3 linked regions of the Homo sapiens genome follow. The protein of the gene in region 2 interacts with the protein of the main gene of each other region in a pairwise test. Each region holds a gene or a part of one and is shown on either strand. Other genes may lie near its edges.

Evidence for each region.
Region 1: the proteins of LSM1 (region 2) and LSM6 interact in binary tests that used the Homo sapiens proteins (3 or more experiments, as listed by UniProt).
Region 3: the proteins of LSM1 (region 2) and TCL1B interact in binary tests that used the Homo sapiens proteins (3 or more experiments, as listed by UniProt).

What each region holds. Positions count from the first base shown.
Region 1 is NC_000004.12:146,178,685-146,182,334, reverse strand, and holds part of LSM6 (U6 snRNA-associated Sm-like protein LSm6), read right to left. Parts: intron 1-3,650. UniProt on the Homo sapiens protein: Plays a role in pre-mRNA splicing as component of the U4/U6-U5 tri-snRNP complex that is involved in spliceosome assembly, and as component of the precatalytic spliceosome (spliceosome B complex).
Region 2 is NC_000008.11:38,162,813-38,166,562, reverse strand, and holds the end of LSM1 (U6 snRNA-associated Sm-like protein LSm1), read left to right. Parts: intron 1-2,722; coding exon 2,723-2,893; 3' UTR 2,894-3,224; downstream 3,225-3,750. UniProt on the Homo sapiens protein: Plays a role in the degradation of histone mRNAs, the only eukaryotic mRNAs that are not polyadenylated. Probably also part of an LSm subunits-containing complex involved in the general process of mRNA degradation.
Region 3 is NC_000014.9:95,689,361-95,693,110, reverse strand, and holds the end of TCL1B (T-cell leukemia/lymphoma protein 1B), read right to left. Parts: intron 2,376-3,750; coding exon 2,205-2,375; intron 1,844-2,204; coding exon 1,790-1,843; 3' UTR 1,775-1,789; intron 1,181-1,774; 3' UTR 483-1,180; downstream 1-482. UniProt on the Homo sapiens protein: Enhances the phosphorylation and activation of AKT1 and AKT2.

The sequences.
Region 1 (3,650 bases), on a different chromosome or scaffold from region 2:
TTATGAACAACTGATGCCTAAATGGTATCTCTGAAAAGAATTATAATCTAAAGGTAATTTTGAGTGTACTATATGCCAGCACTTTTCCAAGAACTTTATATATATTAATCAATTTAAATTGCTCTACCCTAAAAGGGAGGTATTGTTTTTATCCTCATTTTACACATGAAGAAGAAGACACAGAAAGATTAAACACTCTGCTCAAGGTCACACAGCTAGAAAGTGGATAGCCAGCCCATACTCTTAATCACAACCTTAAACAGCTTTCTGAAAGTCAATAACACAGTCAAAGATTTTTAATTACTCTATTAGGACTATAGCAGATATGTGCTCTAAATAATGAAGAAAAAAGTCTTAAAACTCAAGTATAACAGGAGTCTAACACAGAAAAAGAGATAGCATTACACACCCAAATCAACAGCATCAGACATGCAAAGCTGCACATCACTCCTTTCAAAACGCATCTTTTCTTATAAAATAGCTCTCTTTCAAAATATGTTGGTAAGTTAATAAAACTGTAGTTAAGCAAAAACTGAGTAAAAATATTTCAGAAATTAATTTTTCTGTTTCAGTCAAATTCAGCATCACTATTATTCAGCAGCTATATAGCACTGAGACTTAAAAGTTAGTATGGATACAATATTTTAAGGATTCCCTTCAAGAACTCAAGCTGTTCTTTTGTTTTCAATGAAATTTTTTCATTAAATATTCTTCCATTATTTTTTCATTAAACATTCTTCCACTATGCTTATTTCATTCTAAGTCCATCCACTCAATAATCTGAGTTTGTGTGGAGAAGGATTATTTGGAGACGTTCTCATAGTGAATTCACACGGGATCAGCAGTTGTAGTAAGCTGGAACTCTAGGTTACTGGGCTCAACAAATTACATGTACATGTACACACTGAGCAAGGAAATTCAAAAACATGTCATACACAAAGGCTCTGCCTTAAAGAACTTAAAATCTAGAAGAATTTAAACTCATTTAAAGAGTGTGAGTAAACAAACGCAATCATAATTTAAGTAAAATAATTTTATTTAGCCAAGAAAAGTCAACATCCTAAGTCAAATAAAAGAAAATACAAATTTCAGAAATTATCTTTGAATTTTGGGCTATCATTTGGACAATCTACACTGCCCCCAAGGTTTGAAAGATGTTTTTAAAATGCAATAAATTATTTTGCTCAACAAATGTTAACTTAACTTTTCCACTGAATTTCTAGCTTATTTTATTAGCTCCACAATCTCAACAGATAACTACAATTACAACTACTATTACAACTACTATTCAGGACAACCACTTTTCATTCAGGACTCAGATCACACAGTAATTTTATTTACACTGTTCTGAGTACAAAGTGAAAAAATACAAAATAAATACTGTAACAGATTCAGTACCTTTAATGAGTTTAGTGAAAATACACAAATCTTCCCATTCATCTATAAACCGCCTTATTTACATTTTGAATACATGCTGTTTTGAGGCTGAACACATCTAGAGAGAATATTAACTCTGAAGGCCTGATACTCAACTGATGAGTCAGGTGCATTTCCTATCACAGATGCTAAATCCCATTATGCCACAGTTTCATTATGTATAAAACTGAGATAAAAGTAGCTATTTTGTGTTAAAAATCACTAAAATGCTTTGTAATGTGATTCTAGTTCATGGAGATATTAACTACTTTAATTATTACTAATTTCATCTGCTCATAGAGTATTTACAGTTTCAGATTAAAAACATTTGAAAAGCAAAAGCTGGAAAGAGTTAATAACTGTCAGAAAAAAGAATGCAAATCTTGACTATCAGTTGCTTGACAGTATAGGTTATTTTAAAAGTATTATTAATATTAACTTTCCACACCTTTTTATAAACACAGATATGTTCTTCTAAGCTCACCAAAGATAACGCCTTGTCCATTATGCTTTATCTGTATTCCAATTAACATCAATCTCTTCCTGAAGGCAATCAACACTTCCAACTTTCACGGAGCACCTGTCAAGTTCAGGCGCACAGGGTTGGGGAATGTAACACAAAGACAAGGCCTTAAGCCCTCAGAGTTTACATTCCAGAGAGGGCAAGAAACATGTAAATGCAGAATTTTACAAAGGTGATGTGTATTCTGATAGAATTATGCACAAAAGGGCAGAGAACACTCTCTTACCCCAGGCTTGGCAGATCAAAGAATTTCTGGAAGTTAACACCTGAGCTGAATTTGAAGGAAAAGGCGTCACCCCCTAGCTGAAAGAAGAGAAGTCAGAAAAGGCACGGAACAAGTGTCTGGGTAGAACGTAAAATCTACATAGGCAAGGAGGAGACGCCTCTGCGGCAGGGAGCTGTGCCACATTCACAGGGAGCACAGAGTTGAGGCTCTGGGTCAGTTTCCCAAACTTGAATCATTAGGATCAGCTGGAGATTCTACTCAGTAGTTCTGGGGTAGGAGCCAGCAATCTATTTGAACAAGCCTAGGAAATAACTGGCAAGGGGAAATACTGTTGTCAATGATAGGAAACAGGGGTTTTAAGCAGGAACTTGCTTGGGTTCCACTCTCTACTTTCCATAGCAGAGTGCAGATGCCCATCTCACCTACTTTTGGCATCACATAGTTTGGCATTTGATTTTATTTGCTATAACCTGTCACTATGCCCTCTTTTGTATTCTTTATGTGGGTCTTTTCTCCCTCAAAATACTGTAAGCCACATGACAAGAGGGGCTCACAAGCTTCTCATCTGTTCTCTAGAATATCTACATTCTACTAAACCTCTTGGAAAAAAAATACTTCTAAGGTTATTTGGAAAAGAGTATATGGGTTGCCTCAAACACATTTTATCCATCACTTTAGGAAAGCCGTATCTTTTACATTAGTCTTCATTAGGCTTCCTTGCTACTCCCTGTTACTTAATGACTTGCCCATAAATCCATTTTGTATGAGTAAATTGGTCTTGACACCACAATTTTTCCCATCACTTGGCTCAAGTAATTTTAAGTTTTCATCTTTTAAATTGGATAAAGCAGAAGAAACAGTTCTGACAATTTCTGAAGCAAGAGATGAGTCTCTTGAACCATAAACACATAAGAGGAAAAAGACCTTTCTTCAGGGTCACCCTGGTAAAACTTCTCCTTTCAAAATTAAAGTCATAATCACTCTCTATACCTCCTCTCCCTCCCCTGACTCCTACTCAGGCTTGTTTTAAATGACCTATTTTCATAAATGACTATTAAGTCAAAGGCAGTATATTTTCTGTCAGAAGCTACTGAGAGGTCTAGTATGAAAACATCTGCAAAGTGCCCTGCAGGGAATTTTTTTCTTTTTGGTAAAAGAATGAAGAAAAAAAAGAACTTTTATTAACCCAACTATGTGCTACCAGAGTTAGATTCATAAGCAATTTACAGAGAAACCCTGTGAGGTGGAAAGCAAAGCCAAGGCTGACCCCAAAGCCCAAGCCCTTTCACAGGTACAGCTGCCCTTCTGAATATGTTAAGATTCTCTGGTTAAATCTTGGGGAATCGCAATAGAGGCGGTGAGAAATCCAGTTGGAGAGTAGCAGCACTGGGGAAAAAAAATACCTAACGTGACAAAGTGCTGTAAATTAGCCTCAGAGAAATACAATGGACAGATGCAAAGAAATCTATCTCATGTGATTTGAGT
Region 2 (3,750 bases):
AGAAACAGGAATACTTTGTATAGGCTTTCCATCTTACAAAAACACCAAATAATACCTGTACATTCATTTTAAGGACAATAAACTGAATCTATGGACAGTGAGATACTTTTTTAGCAAGGTTCTTCTGCATTATGACATTGGTTAGCAAATGTTTATAAGGGCCAGGCACAGTGGCTCACACTTTGGGAGGCCAAGGCAAGAGGATGCTTGAGGCCAGAAGTTTGAGACCAGCCTGGGCAACATAGCAAGACCCCATCTCTACAAAAAGAAAAAAGATTTAATGCCAGATGTGGTGGCACATGCCTGTAGTTCCAGCTACTTAGGAGGCTGAGGCAGGAGGATCACTTCAGCCCAAGAGTTTCAGATCATGGTGAGCTGTGATTGTGCCACTGCACTCCACCCTGGGCAACAGAGCAAGATCCTGTCTCTAAAAAAATGAAAAATGTGCTCACATTGGCAGCACATCTACTAAAATTGGAACAACACAGAGAAGATTAGCACGGCCCCTGCTTAAGGATGACACGCAAATTCATGAAGTCTTCTATATCTTTAAAAATAATTAATGAAAAATGTTTATAAAACATTCAAAAATAAAAATATTAAGCATACTATGCCACATTTAAGTGAAAAAACGAATTAAAGTCAGTATTTGCATTGTGGGTTTTTGGGAGGGGTTTGTTTTTGAGGCAGCGTCTCACTTTGTTATCTAGGCTGACTGCAGTGGTGTGATCACAGCTCACTGCAGCCTCAAACTCCTGGGCTCAAGTGATCCTCCCCCCTCAGCCTCATGAGTAGCTGGGACTATAGGTACACGTTACCACGCCCAGCTAATTTTTTATTTTTTACTTTTTTTTTTTTTTCCTTTTGAGACAGAGTCTTACTCTGTCGCCCAGGCTAGAGTGCAGTGGTGTGATCTTGGCTCACTGCAACCTCTGCCTCCTGGATTCAAGTGATTCTCGTGCCTCAGCTTCCCGAGTAGCTGGGATTACAAGTGTGAGCCACCACACCTGGCTGGGTTGTTTATTTTTTTTAAGTCAGTATATATGTAGAAAAATTGTAGGGATATTATCAAAATGTTAATCCTCCATACTGGAATTATGGATAATTTTTAAATTTTCCTTGTTTGTCTATTTTCCATATTATCTACGATGAGTGTGTATTTTTTAAATAAGGAATTTTTTATTAGGCAACAATTTTTTGTTTTTTTTTGAGATGGAGTTTTACTCTTGTCACCCAGGCTAGAGTGCAATGGCGTGATCTCCGCTCACTGCAACCTCCGCCTCCCAGGTTCAAGTGCTTCTCCTGCCTCAGCCTCCCAAGTAGCTGGGATTACAGGCACCTGCCACCACGCCCAGCTAATTTTTTTTGTATTTTTAGTAGAGACGGGGGTTTTGCCATGTTGGCCAGGCTGGTCTCGAACTCCTGGCCTCAAGTGATCTGCCCGCCTCGGCTTCCCAGTGTGCTGGGATTACAAGCGTGAGCCACCATGCCCAACCTAAGCAGCAATTTTTTAAATAGTGGAGAAAAATATTGGGACCAAATTGGTTTAGTAACCTAAATGGTCTGCCGAGGTTCTCCCTAGAAGACTTGTTGCCGTAAAGGGAAAAAGAGTCTTGTTACAGTTTAGATCTAGACTACAGAGCTGGTACGGTGGCGCACACCTGTAGCCCCAGCTACGTAGGAGGTAAAGGCAAGAGGATCCCTTTTTATTTTTGTCTTTTTACTTTTTTTGAGACGGTCTTGCTGTTGCAGAGGCTGGAGTGCAGTGACACATTCATGGCTCACTGCAGCCTTGAACTTCAACCTCCCAGGCTCAAGCAGTCCTTCCACCTCAGCCTCCTGAGTAGCTGGAACTGTAGGTGAACACCACCACACCAGCTTTTTTTTGTTTTGTTTTTTGGTGGAGTTAGTTAGGGTCTCACTGTGTTGCCCAGGCTGGTCTCGAACTCCTAGGCCCAAGTGATCCTCCCACCTCAGCCTCCCAAAGTGCTGGGATTACGACTGTGAGCCACTCCACCCGTCCTTAAAATAATTAAAAAAAAAAAAAAGTCTAAGGCCACATTGCCTCAATAACCTCCCTCTTGGATTCTCTGCAGTGGGGGAGATAGCTGTCTATAAGCAGCCCTAATTTTTTTTTTTAAGGAAATTAATCGTGGACTAATAGAAAATTAATCCTGACTAATATGGGATTTTGGATCACATAAAGCTCTGTTATACAAATACTTATTACTGCCTATAATCCCAGCACTTTGAGAGGCCAAGGCAGGCAGATCATGAGGTCAGGTTTCGAGACCAGCCTGACCAACGTGGTGAAACCCTGTCTCTACTTAAAATACAAAAATTAGCCAGGCGTGGTGGCACGTGCCTGTAATCACAGCTACTCAGGAGGCTGAGGCAGGATAATCGCTTGAACCCAGGAGGTAGAGGTTGCAGTGAGCTCAGATTGCGCCACTGCACTTCAGCCTGGGTGACAGAGAGACTCCATCTTGAAAAATATATACATATACTGATCACTATTAACCTCATTGTAAGTATGTATCCTATAGTAGTGTTGTCAGGCATTTCTTTGAAAAACTTACCGGTCCCTAGGAGAAGGATATTTCAGTTCCTGTCACAGTTATGAAAAATAATCTGAGCCTGATAGAGGAATCCATTTGCCTTGAGATCTGTGCTTTCTATTCTTGGTCTTCAGGTGAAGTTTTCAAACCTGTCTCTTTTGTAGGACTTGGAAAAGGAGAGTGACACACCCCTCCAGCAAGTATCCATTGAAGAAATTCTAGAAGAACAAAGGGTGGAACAGCAGACCAAGCTGGAAGCAGAGAAGTTGAAAGTGCAGGCCCTGAAGGACCGAGGTCTTTCCATTCCTCGAGCAGATACTCTTGATGAGTACTAATCTTTTGCCCAGAGGCTGTTGGCTCTTGAAGAGTAGGGGCTGTCACTGAGTGAAAGTGACATCCTGGCCACCTCACGCATTTGATCACAGACTGTAGAGTTTTGAAAAGTCACTTTTATTTTTAATTATTTTACATATGCAACATGAAGAAATCGTGTAGGTGGGTTTTTTTTTTAATAACAAAATCACTGTTTAAAGAAACAGTGGCATAGACTCCTTCACACATCACTGTGGCACCAGCAACTACTTCTTTATATTGTTCTTCATATCCCAAATTAGAGTTTACAGGGACAGTCTTCATTTACTTGTAAATAAAATATGAATCTCAAAAGTGTCATGTTATTTCCAAGTTTGAGTTACCTGTAATGAATAGATTAATAGATTAATTAAGTTTCTGCTCTCAAAGGTATAAGCAGTCCACATACTGGGATTTCCCCCTTCAGTCACAGTTTCAAGTAGCTGGCTACTTAGGAAGGAATATTTTTATTCCAGTCATCTCAGGGGTCCTCTCCTGTTTCCATGTTTGTATCTGTTAAGAAATACAAATGTTCGGCAGGGGCGGTGGCTCATGCCTGTAATCCCAGCACTTTGGGATGCCGAGGCGGGTAGATCACCTGAGGTCGGGAGTTGAAGACCATCCTGACCAACATGGAGAAACCCTGTCTCTACTAAAAATACAAAATTACCAGGGCGTGGTGGCGCATGCTGTAATCCCAGCTACTTGAGAGGCTGAGGCAGGAGAATCACTTGAACCTGGAAGGCAGAGGTTGCGGAGAGCCAAGATTGCACCATTGCACTCCAGCCTGGGCAATGAGCGAAACTCCGTCTCAAAAAAAAAAAAAAAAAAATATAAACGC
Region 3 (3,750 bases), on a different chromosome or scaffold from region 2:
GCATGGTCACCCTGACCTGCACTGTATCGTCCTCTTCTTCCTGGTCACAATGGTGGCACTGCTCAGTGCCTTGGCCCCCTGCCTCATCCCTCCCTGCTCAAGGACTCTGCTCCTCTGTCATGTCATACTCTCCCACACATGGGCCCTTCCTCCCTTGCACCTGCATTCTGCATCTCCTGCAATGACATGCTGTTGCATTGTCTCGCTTTGGGAGCTCTCCCTTGCTCCCGGTTCTCCTGTGACCACTACGGGCTTTCCTGCCCTTTCACAGCAGGGCTTCACCCAGAGCCCGCACGAGTCTCCTCCCCTTCCTTAACTCCCGCCGACGTCCTGCTGCTGAATGGACCAATCACAATTTCCTTCCCAGTGTGGAAAAATATGAAATGGATCATTAAAATGTTACCTTAACATTTCGGTACCAGAAGCTGCCATTTCTATGCTAGAAAGAGGTCAAAGAGAGGCTCCAATTCAGCACAAAAGTGGACAGTGAGCAATAAAGTTTAATTAACCAGTACTGTGAGGTCACCTTCACGGACTAGCATCCCTTCCGTGAGCTGAAGGACTGAATAAGCAGAAGCACAGGCCAAACCCATCCCTCCATGCTCCCCACTGTGCAGATGGGCTCACTGAGGCTCTGGTGTACATTGCTTGCTCAGCACTGGATCTATTTCGGGCCAAAGTGTCAGCAGAACTGATACCCACAGGGCATCCAAGTCCACATCCAGACTGGGCTCCCTCTAATGCCATCTCTTAAACCGAACCACTGCCTGCCGATGGTGAGTTTCCAATCACGAGCTGCACTGGGGGTGCTGGAGGCCTGGCTGGGCACACATCCTGGTGGGTATGAAGGGGATTTGGGAGTGGCATCTAGAAGATCAGCATGAGGGGCACAGAGGAGAAAGAACCCACAGCTTGCAGCCAGCAGGGGAAACTGGCTCAGCACACAGACAGGGCCCCAGTGAAGCCCATCCAGGCCAGCTGCCCTAAGTACAGACCTGAGTGGGACAGGACAGGACTGATAACTAAGGAAAACGAGAGAAACTGAGTGTGCAGGGGCCCTACTGCCTTCTGCCTGCAAGGAGGCTATGCTGGGTGTGCAAACAGAAGAGCAGGTACATGAAGATCCTCACTGAGGGGGCATGAGGAGACACCAGGCCAGAAGAGGCAGGGCCAGCAGGGCCTGCGAGAAGACCAAAGGAGACAGTCAGTGAACTATGGGGGAGCCCGGCACCCCATCCAAGCTGCTGGGGTCAAAGGCAAGTCCAGTGCCAGCCCCTCCAATGGCCCAGGCCCTGCCTGGCCTGCTCCAAGCTGCTGCCCATCTGAGAGGAGCCCTCTATGGGTCAGTGCTGGGTCCTCCAAGGCCACCGTCACACGGCACCTCAGTGCCATGGTTAAATCTAGGGACCCGAGATCACTAGATTCACCGCTATTTCCTGGCTGTATGGTCTCGAGGAAGTCATTCCCATCCCCAGAGTCTTGTCTTTTCGTCGTGAAATGGGACATTAACACGTACACCTCACAAAATTCTCACAAGGATTAAATGATGAGTCTTATTCGATGAGATCCCATGCTTTAGGAACTTATTATGGGGGCCCACCCACTGTGTACCATCACATCCAAGGGGCTGGGGAACAGAGGTGACAGGTGGCTATGTAAGAAAAATCTCAGCAAACAGCAGGGAGGAGGAGGCCACGCCGTCTTTCTGAAAAGAGGAGAGGTCTTCTCACTTTCGTCTGATCCCTACACTGAGACGCACAGGGCCCCAACATACCAGCCACTCCCAGTGTCAGTCTTTCCTCTCCGGCTGATATGTTAGGACCAGCTGCTCCATAGAGTCAATCTGCAGGAGAGGGAGCAGCCATCAGAACCTCTGGGAGATGCTCTTCCAGTTGGCCTTAACGGCCGCCCATGCAGGCTGGCAGCAGCAGCAGGCAGGGGTGAGGCAGGTGGGAACTCCAGCTTGTGGATTTCCCTAGCCCAGGGAAGGCAACCCTCCCTCCCTCACCCACTCTGCCTGCATCCCACATGGGAACTCATGCACCGATCCACCCACACACACTCAGGCCTCCTTGAAGGAAGACTTGAGCAACAGGAAGAGGACAGACAAGAACCCCAAGGGGGCCAGGGGCACAGAAGAGAGAGGGCCACGGCAGTCACCAGGGGCCACCTGTCGCTTTCACCTAGAACCACCACACACTTGCCTGGCCATGGTCTGCTATTTCCCAGAAACTGGAATCCGCTGCTCGGTACTTCCTCCCGGGGTAGAGCTGCCACACGGCGGGCAGCTGGGAGAAGGGCATCTGGCCGGAGGAGAGTAGCTCCCGGGTATGCACTGCCATCTGCCACAAGTGCACTGTGATGCTGGGTTCATACTGAAGGGACCAGAAAAGAGGCGGCAAATCATGGATAGGGTTCCCTGCCAACTGGGCTGCACACAAGCAATGGCCAGTGGGCTGCCAGGGTCAGAGGTAAATGTTTTCAGAATTCCAGACCAAGAGCCTTGGCACTGGTACTTGTGGCTCCATCTAGGATGGCTGGGGCCCTTCTGGCCCCCTCTGACCTGCACCCTGCCTCGCCCCACTGCAATCCCCAAATTTAGCCACTGTTTCCAACCTGTCAACACCTTGGGTTAAAGCTGAGTATTCTCTTGGGGCTCCATCTCTGCCATTGCCGTAATTTTTTAAATCTTCGTTTTAAAAACAAGATATCCATGGACTCTGGATCTGAGGGTGATAGATTTTCCCGCCAAAATATATGGCAGTTCTGATCATGACCTTCACACACTTATAGTAAATATACGAAATAAGGCTGGGAGCAGTGGCTTATGCCTGTAATCCCAACACTTTGGGAGGCCAAGGCAGGAGGACTGCTTGAAGCCACGAGTTCAAGACCAGCCTCGGCAACATAATGAGACTCTGTCTCTACAAAAAATAAAAAATTAGCTGGCCATGGTGGCATGTGCCTACAGTCCCAGCTACTCGGGAAGCTAAGGTGAGAAGATTTCTTGAACCTGGGAGGTAGAGGCTGTTGTAAGCTATCGTCAGGTCACTGCACTCCAGCCTGGGAGACAGAGCAAGACTCTGTCTCAAAATAAATACATAATAATAAAAATAACAAAATTAGGCTGGTACTGGAAGTTAGAAAGATGATAGGAAAAGTAAAACCAAAGCTTCCTACGTTATGCAACAAAATGGAAAGTCTTTTGCACAATTTTCTAAGTATTTGTCTTCTTTTGTGATAAAATGTCTTTTTGAATTAAGAATATTAGTGCTCTATCAATCAGACATGTTGTGAATAATTTTTCTCAGTTTGTCGTCCTCACTTTTTTTATGGACTGCTTTTGCAAAGAGAAGTATTTTAAATTATACGGCAAAATCTCTCCTTCTCTGTGTATTCTGACTGTAGATCAGAGATCAGCAAACTAAGTCTGGCTTGCATCTGCTTTTGCAAATAAAGCTTTATTGTAAATAAACTAAGGCTCCTTCCCTCATTCCTTTACCGTTGCCTTTAGCTGCTTTTGCACTGCAATAGCAGAGCTGAGTAGCTGCAAGAGCATAGCTCTCCAAGTGGAAAATGTTTACCATCAGATCCTTTACAGAAAAAGGTGGCTGATCTTTGCATTAGATGTGTCGCCCAGGAAGCCTAATTCCCACCCTAAGACATCGATCTATTTTTAAGAAAGAAGGGGAAAAAATACTTACTAAGTAGGTCCCTTATCCCACCCGTGGCTAAGTTATTTGAAGAATC